Regions from separate parts of the Homo sapiens genome. Here region 2 is linked to region 1. The links come from fine-mapping of genetic effects on gene expression. Tissue or cell type: stomach. Region 1 holds a variant in brackets; the other region holds the start of a gene. All regions are shown on one strand. Distances are from middle to middle.

The links. PIP is the estimated chance that this variant, and not a neighbour inherited with it, causes the effect.
Region 2: GPR160 starts here. The variant in region 1 is fine-mapped to the expression of GPR160 in stomach (GTEx, PIP above 0.99).

What each region holds. Positions count from the first base shown.
Region 1 is chr3:170,008,915-170,017,754 of GRCh38, forward strand. No RefSeq gene overlaps it. Among named protein-coding and RNA genes, the nearest start is that of GPR160, 25 kb to the right of the region's middle. The variant G/A (reference allele first, on the strand shown) is at 5,381.
Region 2 is chr3:170,034,262-170,043,101 of GRCh38, forward strand. GPR160 (G protein-coupled receptor 160) reads left to right here and starts at 3,734. Exons shown (of 4, transcript NM_014373.3): 1 at 3,734-3,954; 2 at 4,654-4,782. RefSeq lists silencers at 3,709-4,188, 4,499-4,548, 4,709-4,758 and an enhancer at 4,614-5,113.

The DNA of each region.
Region 1 (8,840 bases):
AGCCACTGAGCTGGGCCGGGCATTCCATTTTTTGAGTGCAGCAGGGTTGACAATAATTTTCTTGAAACATTGACCAGTTCAGGTCTTGTCTGATTCCAAATTAGCTACATGAATAACAAAGATGTAAACAAACATCAAAGATGATCACTCCACACGAGCAGGCAGGTGCTGTCACATCTCAGGACAAATGCCCTGTTTGGAGGTAGAATGGAGAAAGTGTAAAGGGATCTGTCTTTGGGTTAACAGCAGGAAATCAGCAGAACTTCAAAGCTGATAATAATCAGAAGCTTGGGAACTTGAAGGACTGTTCCCAAGATGGAACAGCAGATTCAGGTTTAGGCAACAGGAGAATGTCACTATCAGCTAAAAGCAACTGGAAAAGTGGATCTCCAGAAGTGGAGAGCTGAGGGAAAATCAGAACAAATGTCTCAAATCTCTCTCACCCCCTTTAATTTTCAAAAACTATAAATTAAAACAATAAGATGACTTGAAGTGACTGCCTTGAAATCTAATAAGCAGATGTATTAGCTGCCTTTCCAGAAATGTTTGGGTGGAAAAAAAATTATTTGAATCGAATTTTGTGCTTTGAATAAATTTAAAGGATTACACATCAATTTTAGCCTTTGTAAAAACAATACTGTGTAACAAATCACTCACAATTCAGTGGCTTTTTAAAAATCCAAGCTCGGCCGGGCACGGTGGCTCACGCCTGTTATCCCAGCACTTTGGGAGGCCAAGGCGGGCAGATCAGTTGAGGTCAGGAATTCAAGACCAGCCTATCCAACACGGTGAAAACCCATCTCTACTAAAAATACAAAAATTAGCCGGGCATGGTGGTACATGCCTGTAATCTCAGCTACTTGGGAGGCTGAGGCGGAAGAATTGCTTGAACCTGGGAGGCGGAGCTTGGAGTGAGCCGAGATCTTGCCACCGCACTCCCGTCTGGGCAACAGAGCGAGACTCCGTCTCAAAAATAAAAATAAAAACTAAAAACCCAACCTAAACCTCCGATTTGGCAATGAATTTTAGATACAACACAAAAGCACAATCCACAAAAGAAAAAATTGTTAAGCTGGACTTCCTTAACAGTAAAAACTTATAACTAATCGTAGTGGCTCATGCCTGTAATCCCAGCACTTGATCTCTCAGAAGCAAGAGGATCACTTGAGACTAGGAGTTCGGCACCAGCCTCGCCAACATAACAAGATCCAATCTCTACCAAAAAAACAAAAACAAGCAAACAAAAAACTCTTATCCTCTGCAAAAGAGTATGAAAACACAAGCCACAGACCAGGAGAAAATATTTGCTGAGCACCTCTCTGATAAAGGATTTGTATTTAAAATATACATAGAACTCACAAAATTTAATAAGATATGAAACAACCCAATATAAAAATGGGCAAAAGAAACGAACAGATACATCAACAAAGAAGACACACAGATGAAAAAAAAACTATGAAAAGATGCTCTACATCATATGTCATTAAGGAACTGCAAATTAAAACAGTGAGATACCACTACATACCTATTAGAATGGCCAAAATAACCTACGGCCATGCCACCCTGAACATTCCCCATCTTGCCTAGAATGGCCAAAATCCAAAGCACTGACAACACCAAATCCTGGAAAGGATGGGAAACGGCAGGAACTCTTATTTATTGCTAGTGGAGACACAAAATAGTATAGCCACTTTGGAAGACAGTTTGATGGCTTTTTGTTTTGTTTTGAGACAGGGTCTCACTCTGTTACCCAAGCTAAAGTGCAGTGGTGCGATCATGGCTCACTGTAGCTGAAACCTCCCAGGCTCAAGCAATTCTCCCACTCAGCCTCCTGAGTAGCTGGGACCACAGGTGTGCACCATCACATGTGGCTAATATTTTTTTGAGACAGAGTCTCACTCTGTTGCCCAGGCTGGAGGACAGTGGCACGACCTAGGCTCACTGCAACCTCCACCTCCGGGGCTCAAGCTATTCTCTTGCCTCAGCCTCCCTAGTAGCTGGGATTGCAGGTGCACACCACCACGCCTGGCTAATTTTTATATTTTTAGTAGAGACGGTGTTTCACCATGTTGGCCAAGCTGGTCTTGAACTCCTGACCTCAGGTGATCAGCCCACCTCAGCCTCCCAAAGTGCTGGGACTACAATGAGTTAGCCACCGCTCCTGCTCACACCTGGCTAATTTAAAATTTTTGTGTGTGTGTGGAGAAGAGGTCTCCTTATGTTGCCCAGGCTGGTCTCAAACTCCTGGGTTCAAGCAATCCTCCCACCTTTGCCTCACAAAGTGCTAGTATTACAGGTGTGAGCCAGCACACCTGGCTACAGTTTCTTAACAGATGGAAAAATGAATCCACACAAAGGGAAAAAGAGCATCAAAAATGGCATTGGGGCCAGGCGCCATGGCTCACACCTGTAATCCCAGCACTCTGGGAGGCCAAGGTGGCCTCGGATCACCTGAGGTCAGGAGTTCAAGACCAGTCTGGCCAACATGATGAAACCCTGTCTCTACAAAAAATATAAAAAGATTAGCTAGGCGTGGTGGCGTGTACCTATAAGACCAGCTACTCAGGAGGCTGAGGCAGGAGGATTGCTTGAACCAGGGAGGCAGAGGTTGCAGTGAGCTGAGATCACACCATTGCACTCAAGTTTGGGAAACAGAGCACGACTCCATCTCCAAAAAAAAAAAAAAAATGGCATCAATTTTCAACTTGTGATGGGGGATTTCCTGATTGTCTCTTTCCAGAATATCTTTAAGGTCAAAATATTTTCGTAATAATACTGATGTTGTTGCCTTTTCACTCTCATTCTCTCACAAGCATAAGTGGAGTTTTCCAGTGTGATATGGGAACAGATTGAATGCGGAGGCAGACATGAGAATCTAGCTTTCTTCTATTCATCCAGATATTCAACAGATTTGTTAAAAATGTAAAACAGCCACTCATCTCACAAACATTTTCTTTCTGAAAAAGTTATTTTTCATAGACATGTTATTTCTGTTAATGTGTCCTCTTTTATTATTGTTTCTAAAAATTTATGTTTTAATCTTTCTTTTATTTTGAGACTAGGTCTCACTCTGTTGCTCAGGCTGGAGTACAGTGCATGATCATAGTTCACTCTAACTCGAACTCCTGGGCTCGAGGGATTCTCCTGTCTCAGCTTCCTGAGTAGCGTGGACTACAGGCATGTGCCACCACACTCAGCTAATTAAATTTTTCGTAGAAACAGGGTCTCGCTATGTGGCCTAGGCTGGGCTCAAACTCCTGGCCTCAAACAATCCTCCCACCTCAGCTTCCCAGAGCTCTGGGATTACAGGGTGAGCCACTGCCTGTTTTAATTTCTTTTCTTTTTTTTTTTTTTTTTTTTTTTTTGAGACGGAGTCTTTCTCTGTCACCCAGGCAGGAGTGCAGTGGCGTGATCTCGGCTCACTGAAACCTCCGCCTCCCAGGCTCAAGCTATTCTCCTGCCTCAGCCTCCCGAGTAGCTGGGATTATAGGCACCACGTACCACCACACTAGGTTAATTTTTGTATTTTTAGTAGAGATGGGGTTTCATCATGTTGGTCAGGCTGGTCTCGAAATCCTGACCTCGTGATCCGCCCACCTCAGCCCCCCGAAGTGCCAGGATTACCGGCATGAGCCACCACGCTTAGCTGCCTGTTTTAATTTCTAACCGCAGCAAATAATCCACACCAACAGGACTCTTTGGCATTCTCAATAATTTTTAAAAGTAGTTAAAAGGTCCTGAGCCCAAAACGTGTGAGAGTTGTTGTTCTAGAGTAACTAGCATTGAAAGTTCTTTCACAAAGCTGACTGCAAATAAGGAAGATTTGGTGACACATAGAACCAGGTGGTAAAAATACAGGATGAGGGAAGGGCTTTCGAAATGGAGGCAAACAGAATAGGATCAGAAAATCTGAGCTGGAGATTAGTACAAAAGGGAGGAGGGACTAAATCTTTTATTGTGTCTGGGGTGTAGATCATTTACCTGCTCACTGTAGACTCGTGCCTGACAAATATAATTGCCTGGCAACCTCGGCTATTAGTTGTTTGAGACAGAGATATGATTGTAGATTCTGGCTGTATGTAATAATAATACCTCTTAAATTGCATCTGGCACTTAGGGACGCTGTCTAAATCCCTTGTGGCATCATTATTCATAGTTGCCTTCTGTGTTCATTTTACTTATAAAGAAATTGAAAACTCAGAAAAGAGTGTGTGGCTTTGGATTTAGGTAGCCCCGGATTAAAAATCCTGCCTAATGCTGGCTTCATCCGCTGTGTGAGAAGGTAACCATTTCAAGCCTGCACTGCTGAAGGAAGCACCAGTGTTCTGGCAACACCTCCTGTGTCCTGACTTTGGCTTTGGTTCTCACAGTGTGGTTTCCTCTGTTCTTTCCCACCGTTTGAGCCTGATTCTCCAGCTTTTCCAGTAAGTCTTGGGGCCACTGAAACTTTTACAATAAATTCATTTTCTTTTTACAGCAATGAATGAGGGTTCCAATTTCTCCATGTCCTCATGAACACTTGTTATTAACCATCTTTTTTTATTATAGTCATGCATTGCATAATGACATTTTGGTAAATGATGGACCTCACATATGATGGTGGTCCCATAAGACTATAATGGAGCTGAAAATTTCCTATTGCCTAGTGATGTCATAGCCATCATAATGTGGTAGTGCAATACATTACTCACGTGTTTGTGGGGATGCTGGTGTAAACAAACCTGTGCTCCCAGTCATATAAAAGTGTAACACGTGCTGAGCGCTGTGGCTCACACCTGTAATCCTAGCACTTTGGGAGGCCGAGGCAGGCGGATCACCTGAGGTCAGGAGTTCGAGACCAGCCTGGACCAACATGGCGAAACCCCGTCTCTACTAACCTACAAAAATTAGCCTGGCATGGTGGTGGGCCCCTGTAATCCCAGTTACTCGGGAGGCTGAAGCAGGGAGAACTGCTTGAACCCAGGAGGCGGAGGTTGCAGTGAGCCAAGATGGCGCCACTGCACTCCAATCTGGGCAACAGAGAGAGACTCTGTCTCAAAAAAAAAAAAGTGTAACACATAAATTATGTATAGTACATAACACTTGATAATAAATGACTATGTTTCTGGTTTATGTATTTGCTATCCTATACTTTTTATCATTATTTTAGACTGTACTCCTGCTACTTATATATTTTTTAAAATTAACTGTGGAACAGCCTCAGGCAGGTCCTACAGGAGGTATTCCGGAAGAAGTCATTCTTATCATGGGAGATGACAGCTCCATGGATGTTTTTGCCCCTGAAGACCTTCCAGTGGGACAAGATGTGGAGGTGGAAGACAGTGACACTGATGATCCCGGCCCTGGGTAGGCCTAGGCTAATGTGTGCGTTTGTGTCTTT[G/A]TTTTTAACAAAAAAACTTTAAAAGTTTAAACAATTGAAAATAAAAAGAGAAAAAAGCTTACAGAATAAGGATATAAAGAAAGAAAATAGGCCGGGGGCAGTGGCTCACGCCTGTAATCCCAGCACTTTGGGAGGCCGAGGCAGGCGGATCACAAGGTCAGGAGTTCAAGACCAGCCTGACCAACATGGTGAAACCCCGACTGTACTAAAAATACAAAAATTAGCCAGGCGTGGTGGTGCACGTCTGTAATCCCAGCTACTTGGGAGGCTGAGGCAAGAGAATCGCTTGAACCTGGGAGGTGGAGGTCGTAGTGAGCCAAGATCATGCTTCTGCACTCCAGCCTGGGTGACAGAGAGAGAGACTCCATCTCAAAAAAAAAAAGAAAATATTTTTGTACGATAGTACAATGTCTTTGTGTCTTAAGCTAAGTGTTATTACAAGAGTCAAAAACACTTAAAAATTTTTTAAGTTTATAAAATAAAAGCTACAGTAAGCTAAGGTTAATTCATTATTGAACAAAGATAGTTCTTTATAAATTTAATATAGCCTAAATGTACAGTGTTTATAACGTCTACAGGAGTAGTGTACGGTGATGTCCTAGGCCTTCACATTCACTCACCGCTCACTCACTGATACCCACAGCAACTTCCAGTCCTGCAGGCTCCATTCACGGCAAGTGCCCCATATAAGTGTACTATTTTTTATCTTTTATACCATATTTTTATTGTATCTCTTCTATGTCTAGACCCACAAATACTGACCATTGTGTTACAATTGCCTATGGTATTCAGTACAGTAACATGAGGTACAGGCTTGTAGCCTAAAAGCAATAGGCTCTACCGTATAGCCTAGGTGTGTAGTAGGTTACAGTAGGTTTGTGTAAGTGCACTTGATAATGTTCACAAGACAAAATCACCAAATGACTCATTTTTCTCAATGTATCCCCATCGTTAAGCGATGCATAACTGTATGGTCATTCTAGTCAGGGTTGATTTCCACCATTTGCAGCTAAGATAACTGTGGCTAATCTCAAAATCAATTGAATAATAAATGTTTCATGGAAAGCCCTCATATATAATCCTTCAACTTTCAAGTTTAGGGATTACTTTTGACTTATATGAAGACAGACCAACAAGAAGTCAGTATTGTATAAGCCCAGAAGGCAAGGACACTTGCCCATAAGCCATAGAGAACTTTCTACACTTTTGGAAAGGATAGCTCCTAAAAATACATGTGCCCAACTTCCAAGTGTCAACACTCGCACATCTTTGCCTGAAGGCTCTCTCTGGTTCTGAAATCTTTACACAAATCAGGCCACAAGCTCCAGGGAATCAAATATATCCCCAGAGCATTCTTCAAACCAATGATGGTTAGAAGATGGTAGATAAATACTCCAGCTCCCTCCACCCCCAGGCAGGATAAAAATTTTTTAAAAATATTTTGTCCCTCTTATTTTTATTAAGATATAATTCACATACCATAAAGCTCATACTTTTAAGGTGTACAATTCAGTGGTTTTTAGTATATTAACTAAAAATAGCTGCGCAACCATCACCACTGTTTAATTTCAGTTCATTTTCATCACTCCAAACAAAAATTCTGTACTTATTAGCAGTAATTCCCCATTCCACCCTCCCACCAGCTGCTAGCAAACATTAATCTATTTTCCATCTCTATGGATTTGCCTATTCTGGAAATTTTATATAAATTTTATATAAAACATATTGTATGGAGTCATATAATATGTGGGCTTTTATGACTGGCTTCTGTCACTTAACATAATGTTTTCAAGATTTATTCATGTTGTACCATATATCAATAATCTATTTCTTTTTATTGCTGAAATCTATTTCATTGCATGGATATACCACATTTTGTTTAACCACTCATCAGTTGATGGACACTTGGATTTTTTTTCCGCTTTTGGCTATTCTGAATAATGCTGCTGTGAATATTCATGTACGAGTTTCATGCGAATATTTTTTTCAATCTTCTTGGGTATGTAACAACTGGGAGTGGAGTTTCTGGGTCATAGGATAACTCTATGTTTAACTTTTTAAGAACTGGAAAACTGTTTTCCAAGGCAGTTATGCCAGTTTTCATTCATACCAGCAATGAATGAGAGTTCTAATTCCTTCACATTCTCACTAACATTTGTTATTATCGTCTTTTTAATTGTGGTTATCCTGGTGGGTGTGACATATCTCATTGTGGTTTTGATTTGTGTTTCCCTAATGATGAATGATGTTGAACATCTTTTCTTGTACTTACTGGCCATTTGTATATCTTCTTGGGAAAAATATCTATTCAAATCTTTACCCATTACTGTTGGGGTCTGTCTGGCAGGATAATTTTGAGTTGTACATTCTACACTGTCTGCCAGAGTTCTCCAGTGGGATTAGGATCTATTTGCTCACACTGGTGACTTGATTGATAACACATCTTTTATCTGTGCTCTCCCTTCCATACTAGTTTGCTAAGACTGCTATAACAAAGTAATACAGACTAGGTGGCTTAAACCACAGAAAGGTATTGTCTCACAGTTCTGGAAGCTGGAAGTGTGAAATTAAGACATCAGTAGAGTTGGTTTCTTCTGAGGGCTGTGAGGGAAGGAACTGTTCCATGTCTCTCATTTAGCTTCTGGTAGTTGTTTTCTGGCAATCTATGTCATTCCTTAGCAAGTAGAGAGAGTAGGAGGAATGATGTTCGCCAAAATTATGTAGATTGGGTAGGGATGCCATCTAAAATTCTGGATAAAAATTGGCCACTTCACTATTCACCTCCTCCAATGCCCACCACACATACCTCTGAAGAGTTAGAATTTTGGACTTCCCCAAACATTCCAAGCTCTCACATATCCTTATGCCTTTGCTCAGGCTATTTTTGGGCAACCATTCACAAATCTCATTCTTCCTTTAAGTTCCAGCTCAATGTCACTCCTTATTTAAGTCATTCCCAAATGAGTCTAATCATAGTAAATTCCAGAACCTGTGTGGAAGCTATAAGTCCAGATAGGCTACCACCACGTGAAGCCTGAGAATGAAGCCAACATGAAGAAGGACAGAGAAGAGAGATTGAGAGAAGCCAAATTCTGGGGACATCATTTGAATTGAATCTCTGGGTTAAACTACACCAACCCGTGCCGATCCCTTGATAGTTCTGTGTCACGTGCCACAGTATCATATGTCTCGATAGTTCCGTGTCAAGTGTAGAGACAACAGGATTGCCTTAGGAATATATTCTAAACTCATATAGAGTCTGCTTTTTTTTTGAGATGGAGTCTTGGGCCGGGCGTGGCTCACGCCTGTAATCCCAGCACTTTGGGAGGCCGAGGCAGGCAGATTACCTGAGGCTGGGAGTTCGAGACCAGCCTGACCAACATGGAGAAACCCTGTCTCTACTAAAAACACAAAATTAGCCGGGCATTGTGGCACATGCCTGTAATCCCAGCTACTTGAG
Region 2 (8,840 bases), 25 kb after region 1:
ATGTGACTGTACTGAATACTGTAGGCAACTGTACTGAATACTGTAGACAACGGTAAGAATTTATGTCTCTAAACATAGAAGAGGCACAGTAAAAATACAATATAAAAGATAAAAACGGTATACCCGTATAGAGCACTTACCATGAATGGAGCTTGCAGGGCTGGAAGTTGCTGTGGGTGAGTGAATGAAAAGGCCTAGGATATTACTGTCCACTACCGCAGACTTTATAAACACTACATTTAGGCTACACTAACAATAAGTTAATCTTGGCTTACTGTAACTTTTTTACTTTGTAAACTTTAAATTTTTTTTTAACTTTTTGACTCTTTTGTAATAATACGCCTTAAAACACAAATACGTTTCAGCTGTACAAAAATATTTTCTTCTATTCTTATTCTATAAGCTTATTTTTCCCATTTTGAAAATGCATTTATTTACCTTTTAAACTTTTTTTCTTAAAAACAAAGGTGCAGGCCTACACAGGGTCAGTATCATCAAGATATCACTAGGTGATAGGAATTTGTCAGCTCCATTCTAACCTTGTGAGGCCACTGTTGTAGATGTGATCCATTGTTAACCAGAATGTCATTGCAGCACATGACTTTATTACAGAAGAAGGAAAGAATGGACAGTGGGGAGCAACCAAGGTCTCTGTCTGCCACAGTTCCTCCACCAGCCCCTGAGACAGAGTTCCCCTCAGGAGGAGTCTGGTATGCGGACCCATGTACACATCATCTCTAGACAGAGAGACTTCAGGGCAGTTGTTGACATCGGCTTAAGAAATGGTGGGAGAGTGGCAGGCACTTGGGGATGCTGAAAGTATTTGAAGATAAATCCAGCCTCCCAGATCCGCCTGGAGAGAGGCATTGACAGGGCAGCCTGGCTGCTCAGAGCTACCCTACCCCAGCCTTGTCACTAGCAATATGTCTCTCCTTCCTGGGTCTCAGTCTCATTTTCCTCTTCTTTTTTTTTTTTTTTTTTTTTTTTGAGACAGAGTCTCGCTCTTGTCGCCCAGGCTGGAGTGCAATGGTGTGATCTCAGCTCACTGCAACCTCCGCTTCCCAGGTTCAAGTGATTCTCCTGCCTCAGCTTCCTGAGTAGCTGGGATTACAGGCGCCCGCCACCATGCCTGGCTAATTTTTGTATTTTTAGTAGAGACGGGGTTTCACCATGTTGGCCAGGCTGGTCTCAAACTTCTGACCTCATGCAGTCTGCCCACCTCAGCCTCCCAAAGTGCTGAGATTACAGGTGTGAGCCACTGTGCCCGGCTCTCATTTTCCTCTTCTATAAAGGAGAGTAATAACCCTACCTTGCAGGGTTGGCGTGAGGCTCGTTTGAAGTTATGTATGTCCAGCTCCTGTTCTATACTATCCACTCCCTAGATGATGGTTATTTTTGTTATGAGTATGATTTGGCCCCCATGCCCTCTGCTCTAACTCAACTCCCATCCTCTCCCTCTCAGGTCTTCTGACCCACTTGCCATTCCCTTATTAGAACATGAACTCTCTGCCTGGCTTTCCACTTCCCACTTTGCACACGTTGGAATCTTGGCGGAAGCACCTCACATCCCGTTGAACCCGGTACTCCTCTGTGATTCAGTTGGCCTCTGCACTTCTCCAGGAAGTTCTCTCTGCCACTCCAGGCCAGGTGAAGCTGCTCCTCAGTCTCCCTAGCAACCCACACTTAATTCTATCAGGGTTCTTCTTGCACCCTTGGGCAATTACTGAGTTCCTTGCAAGGCTAGTCCAGACTCTCAGTGTATAAACCACCCTTGAGGTAACTAATTCCATCTTAGAAAAACCCTCCATTTTATATTTCATGGGCACTTTGCTAACAAGGATAAGATGTTTTGCTTGACGAACAAATTTTAAAAAAGAACACAAACAAGCACACTCATCCACTATAAGTTCTCACCAGAGGACCCTCTGACTGTAAAAGAGCGAAGCCTTCAGCTTGGCTGTCTTCACTAACACCGTCTTGCAGTCACTCATGATAAGAACTCAGAATTTGCCACCGAAAGCTCTGCCACATCAAAGACTCTTCCTTGCAAGACCACCAGGCCCAGACCAGGACTCCCTTTGTCTTCTTCCCTCCCTTTGGACTGGTTCATTAACCCTTTCTCCTCTTCTTCGTCTTGATGTTAAATATTACTTTGTTGTGGAATGTTTAATCTACAACATTCGTATAGTGATTAAGTATACTAGTATGTATGGTTTGCAATATTTACTGACTTATGGAGTGGCTTGAACCTATGTGCTCTGACTACAGAGTGAATGGGAAGGACTAAGGAGAATTGCCTCCTTGGGAACTCCATGTAGCTCCTGGATTTTGTGATTGAAATAGCATTTAAAAAAAAAAAAAGACTGACATTGTGGAGAGATACAAACGTGTATGGACATGGTCATCTTTAATCTCTAACTGCTATGACACTCAGAGAGGTTGAGAGGCTCAGGACACTCCCCTTGTTCAAGGCTCTGCGTGAAGAGGAGAAGGAAGAAATTGTGCAATATTTTATTTTATTTTATTTGTTTCAGATGAAGTCTGTCTCTGTTGCCCAGGCTGGAGTGTAATGGCGTGATCTTGGTTCACTGCAACCTCTGCCTCCTGGGTTCAAGTCATTCTCCTGCCTCAGCCTCCCAAGTAGCTGGGACTACAGGCATGTGCCATTACGCCCAACTAATTTTTGTATTTTTAGTAGAGGCAGGGTTTCACCATGTTGGCCAGGCTGGTCTTGAACTCGTGACCTCAAGTGATCCACCCGCCTCGGCCTCCCAAAGTGCTGGGATTACAGGCTTGAGCCACTGCGCTGGCCTAATTGTTCGATATTTTAAATGTTTAAATGACCGGCAAGTCGTAGGTGCTCAACAAATATTTGTTGAATGACAACAAATTAGCACTGTTGACACAAAAAAGGCAATGCAATATATGGGCTATTTAATATTTGCAGATTTTTATTTAAAAATCTGAATTCACAGTACACTGCAGGCGGTTGCTTAGAAGCATACAAGTTTCAAGAAGTTCTGTCACCCTGTGTATACTCTTTTTTTTTTTTTTTTTTTTTTTTTTTTTTTTTTTTGATACGGAGTCTTGCTGTTGCTGCCCAGGCTGGAGTGCAGTGGTGCGGTCTTAGCTCACTGCAACCTCCGCCTCCTGGGTTCAAGCGATTCTCGTGCCTCAGCTTCCCAAATAGCTGGGATTACAGGTGCGTGCCACCAAGCCCGGCTAATTTTTGTATTTTTAGTAGACATGGGGACCAACGTGGACCATGTTGGCCAGGCTGGTCTCAAACTCCTGACCTCAAGTGATCCGCCCACCTTGACCTCCCAAAGTGCTAGGATTACAGGCATGAGCCACCGCCTGGCCACCCTGTGTAAACTCTTATCTGGAGACAACTGCCAAGTTTACATTTGCAGAGGTAAGGGAAGGAGAGGCCCTGACCCAGTGGCCCCCGCTCGCCCGCCTGCTGGGGAGATGGGGAGCTCCTAGGACAGGGGCCGGGTCCTCAAGATGTGGCATGAGGAAGGGGGTCTCACTGAGCCCCCAAGCGGCTCCCGCACTGCGCACCCCTGGCTGCGTCCCTCTGCCAGCCTCAACTCAGCCCTCTCCTAGCCGGCGGGGGGTGACAGTCTCTGTGATATCTTTCCGTCCCGCCGGCAGGCGGCGCCCTCCGGCCCTTGTTTCGTTGGGCCCGGACGGGACGTGCGCGCTCAAAGGTTGCCCGTCTCTGACGCCCGCATTTCCTGGTCTGGAGCCGGCTGAGCCACAGCAGGGTCGCCGCGGGGTCCCGGGGCCGTGCTCCCCTGCCCCTCCCGGGAGCGCGCGGGGCGGGGCGGGGCGGGGCGGGACCAGGCGGGCGAGCTGGGCCCTCGCCCCTCCCTCGGGCGGTCACCTGGGCACGGGCGCTGCAGGTGTCGGGGCCTCAACCTTGCGGAGCCGACAGCCATCGATCCTCGGGTGAGTGCGGGCGCAGGTGGAGGGCGCCCGGCGCTCTCGCCACCGGCGTCCCAGCCTCGGGGCGGCGAACGGTCCCCGCGCCGCTCCCAGCCTCCCTGGCCGGGCGTTCAGCGCGCCTGGGAGGGGAAGGAATTTCCTTTGCAGGAACTCAGGGGCTGGGGGTTCTCTGCTACTTAAGAGATCCAGGAGTGGAGCCCGGACGCCCGAGCCTTCCTGCTTCGGGATGGGGATTACCGCGGAGCCTTAGCAACTGGGGTCTGTCGTGGGTTTGAGGGCAGGGGGTCTGGGGAATGGGCGTGTCCCGCACCCAGAGACTCGCCACCCTCTCTCCAGGGGAGATGCTTTTTAAACATGACAAACCCAGCAAGGTTATAGAAATGGGTGTATGCAACTCTTCGCTCTTTCCTGGCGCCCAGAGGTGAATAGTCTCACACACACGCGCGCGCGCGCGCGTGCGTGCATTCATTGGGGCCGACTTTGCCTCCCCTCCCCTGGCCTCGAGCGTTGGGGACGGCGCCCCCGCCCGCGCCCGCCACTGGGATTAAGCCCCAGGGCCTTGCCCGGCTATTTGTTTTCCGAGGCCGTTGCGTCCGGGTAGGTTCCTGGATGACCATCCTGGCTGGCTCAAAATTCCCTCTAGATTACCTGCGACCACCCCCAGGAACCCGGAGACTGAAACTCCTTTTCTCACCTGCGCAGGTGGCCTCGAGGTGGTGGCAGGGCCGCCCCCTGCAGTCCGGAGACGAACGCACGGACCGGGCCTCCGGAGGCAGGTTCGGCTGGAAGGAACCGCTCTCGCTTCGTCCTACACTTGCGCAAATGTCTCCGGTAAGGGGAAGTGTCGCTTAAATCCCAGAGATAACCCCCACCGAGAAGCATCACAAAAGACATGAACGAGTGTTTAGCTCTCAGGATTGTTATTGCTTCGAGTGAAATGGTTTCTTGTGTGCTTTTGTGCATTTATATATAAATATAAACATATATGTATACATTTGACAAGCTCTAAGACCGGCACTTGTGATATCTCCAGAATAGAGTTATTATAGTTATTTGGAAATTGTCAGTGAGGATCAGCTTGGTTGCTATGCGAATTGCAGGGAGGAGGACCTGTGTGCAGTTTCAAAACGATTTAAGAGAAATTCGGTGGCAATACAAGGTGTGGACGTTGGTTGGATCCTGATTTGATGAATGTTTTTTAAAATGGAGATGATGCCCGAGTGCGGTGGCTCACACCTGTAATCCCAGCACTTTGGGAGGCCGAGGTGGGTGGATCACCTGAGGTCAGGGGTTCGAGACCAGCCTGGCCAACATGGTGAAACCCTTCTCTACTAAAAATACAAAAATTAGCTGGGTGTGGTGACACGCGCCTGTAATCCCGGCTACTCGGGAAGGCTGAGGTAGGAGAATCGCTTGAACCCGGGAGGCGGAGGTTGCAGTAAGCCGAGATGGCGCCACTGCACTCCAGCCTGGGAGGCAGAGCGAGACTCCGTCTCAAAATAAATAAATAAATAAGGAGACGATGAAGGACATTTCTACTGATTATTTGATGGTATCAAGGAAATTATAATAGTTCTGTTTAGTTACTTTTGGTAACGGTATCCTGATTAAGGTTTTTAAAATCCCTGTAGAGACACAGACTGAAGTTGAAATACAGCTTTGGGATTTGCTTCAGAATTATTCAGTTTTAGATGCTAGCAGAGAAGGGAGGGGAACAAGATGAGAGGAGATTGTTCATGGATTGTTAATAGTTGAAGCTGGGAAGAACACATGGACACAGGCAGGGGAACTTCAGGCACGGGGGCCTGTCGGAGGGTGGGGGGAAAGGGGAGGGAGAGCACTAGGACAAATACCTAATGCATGCAGGGCTTAAAACCTAGATGACGGGTTGATAGGTGCAGCAAAACACCATGGCACATGTATACCTATTAACAAACCTGCACATTCAGCACCTGTATCCCAGAACTTAAAGTAAAACAAAAATAAAAATAGTTGAAGCTGGATGATGGTTATGGAAGTCCTTATGCTATTGTTTCAGTATTTGTGTGTGTTTGGCATTTTCCTTTAAACAGAACACCACCACTTGTGGAGCTTTTTTGCATAAGGTAGGTTTGGCACTGCAGCCGAGTCTAGATGCAAGGTCTTCCGCAGACGCTCGTTCTTTGTAAATTGGGTGTCAAGGCTGCTTCTCCAGACTCGGTCATAAAAAGTTTTTTTCTCCCTACTGGAGGTGCCGATTTATTTTGCTCAGAAGGCAGAGGGTGTTTGCTGAGTGTGACAAAGCTGAGCGGATCAAGTTGATGCAGGTGGAGGCTAGGTCAGCTTTTTTTACACAAAGGGCATTAGCAAGCCTGGGGGTTGATTGCCTCCGGTCGGGCGGATTGTATAAAACGTGTTAGCAGTTTTTCCTAATTGCCCAAATCCCTTCCAAGTTGTGTTCATCAAAAAACAGAGTTTGCAGTAGTGAACACACGTGTCGGTATGCACTTAGGATTTATGTACACTTCTGAAAGCATTGCATGCCTCAGTAAAAAGTGTATATGATGAAAACAAAGCACAAGATGAGTAGAGGGCTGCTTATTGCTTGAGAGAGAGCTTAGCTGTGTTGTGTTGCCTATTTCATCTTTATCTTGTTTGCTTCAGCGATCATGACATGTAAATATTTAGCAAAGCACTGACTCCTAAAAGTTCTGCATGGTGGTAACACATTTTTTTTAAGAATCATGCTTGAAAGAGGGTAAGGAAGGAGTAATAGCTATATCTTCATCAGGCTTGCTCCAGATTTCTTTTCTCCAGATTTAGCCTATAATTCCTACTCATTCTGTCATGCTTGGTCAGTACTTTGGAATAGTGATTCTGAGAGGGAGCTGTTGAAGTTAGTAGAGGGAGGAAGGGGAGGTATATTTCCAAAAGGTAAATCCACATTTTTTAGTCGCTTCAGTATAACTGAATGTAATGCCTTTTGATTTAAAGATAAAACAAGTCAAAGAGATGAGATCTGGGACAGTTAAAAGTTGAAGTGTTCGGTGAATCTCCCCGGCGTAGACCTTGCTCGTGTAGATTCACTAGTCTAAAGGATGTAAAGATTTTTTTTTTTTTTTTTTTTTGAGACGGAGTCTTGCTCTGTCACCCAGGCTGGAGTGCAGTGGCGTGATCTCGGCTCACTGCAAGCTCCACCTCCCGGGTTCACGCCATTCTCCTGCCTCAGCCTCCCGAGCAGCTGGGACTACAGGCGCCCGCCACCACGCCCGGCTAATTTTTAGTAGAGACGGGGTTTCACCGTGGTCTCCATCTGTTGACCTCGTGATCTGCCCGCCTCAGCCTCCCAAAGTGTTGGGATTACAGGCGTGAGCCATCGCGCCCGGCCGTAAAGATGTTTTAAGATTCGGTTGAGGAATGCTGAAGCATGTCCTAATTTCACTGCTGTGATGGGAAAATAATGAGACAACCAACAAAAATCCCCTTACAGTGGGGGGAGATACCACAGTGAATTCATGATGGTTCTTAAATGAAGTGAAATTGTTTGGTTTGTGGCTCTGTTTTCTTGGTATGAATGAAAGAAGTATGCAACCGTCACGTAACTTTATTTTATACCTCAGTTTCCTCTCTAGTTCCCTAAAAGCATGGAAAGAGAAAAGAAACTTGCCAGGCCCTTTAGTGACCAAACTAATGTTTACTCTCCTCTGTAGGAGAGTGGTAGATTTGGACTCTGGAGAGTTGATTGCTAATAGCCATTTTAAGGACTTACCACAAATGTGACACCATTTCGCCCTGATTCACATTATTAAGGGTATGAACGCATTAGAAAAGCAAATGGCTCCCTTGTTGGGCTAGAAATGATAGGAAAGAGTGTTGGCAATCTAGTCAACAGTATTCTCCTAGATTCATAAACACTTCGCTTTCATCTGCATCACCTCATCCCATCCTGTGAGGCGAAGCAGTGGTGATAGAGGGCAATTTTGGTTTTTAACAGATGGGAACATTGAAATATAAGGAAATCAGCCTGGGCAACATAGTGAGACCTTGACTCCACAAAAAATAAAGATAAATAAATAAAAATTAGCCAGGTATGGTGGTGCACGCCTGTAGTCCCAGCTACTCAGGAGGTTGAGGTGGGAGGATTGCTTGAGCCTGGGAGGTTGAGGCTGCAGTGAGCCGTGATCATACCACTGTACTCCAGCCTGGGTGACAGAGCAAGATACTGCCTCAAAAAAAAAAAAAAAAGAAAGAAAGAAATCTAAAGAAGATTGCTTTAAATCACATCTTTAGGGAGACAGGGAAGGAAATTTAACATTTATCAAGAGTTCATTGGCCAAAGAAAAGAGTTCATGGGCTGGGTGTGGTGGCTCGCATCTGTAATCCCAGCTCTTTGGGAGGCTGAGGGGAGGAAGGTTTGCTTGAGGCCAAGAGTTCAAGACCAGCCTGGGCAACATAGTGAGGCCCCCATCTCTACAAAAAAAAAAAATAAATAAATAATAATAATAATAATAAAATTGGCCAGTGTGGTGGTGGCTGAGGTGGGGAGGGTGGCTTGAGCCCAGCAGTTCTAGGCTGCAGTAAGCTATGTTTGCACCATTGCACACCAGCCTGGACGATAGGGCAAGACTCTCTCTCTTAAAAAAAAAAAAAAAAAAAAAGAATTCATGGTAGTCTTCTGGTAGTCTTCACACACTTTTTTTTTTTTTTTGAGATGGAGTCTCGCTCTGCCACCCAGGCTGGAGTGCAATGGTGCAATCTCAGCTCACTGCAAGCTCTGCCTCCCGGATTCATGCCATTCTCCTGCCTCAGCCTCCCCAGTAGCTGGGACTACAGGTGCCCACCACCACGCCCAGCTAATTTTTTATATTTTTAGTAGAGACGGGGTTTCGCCATGTTAGCCAGGATGGTCT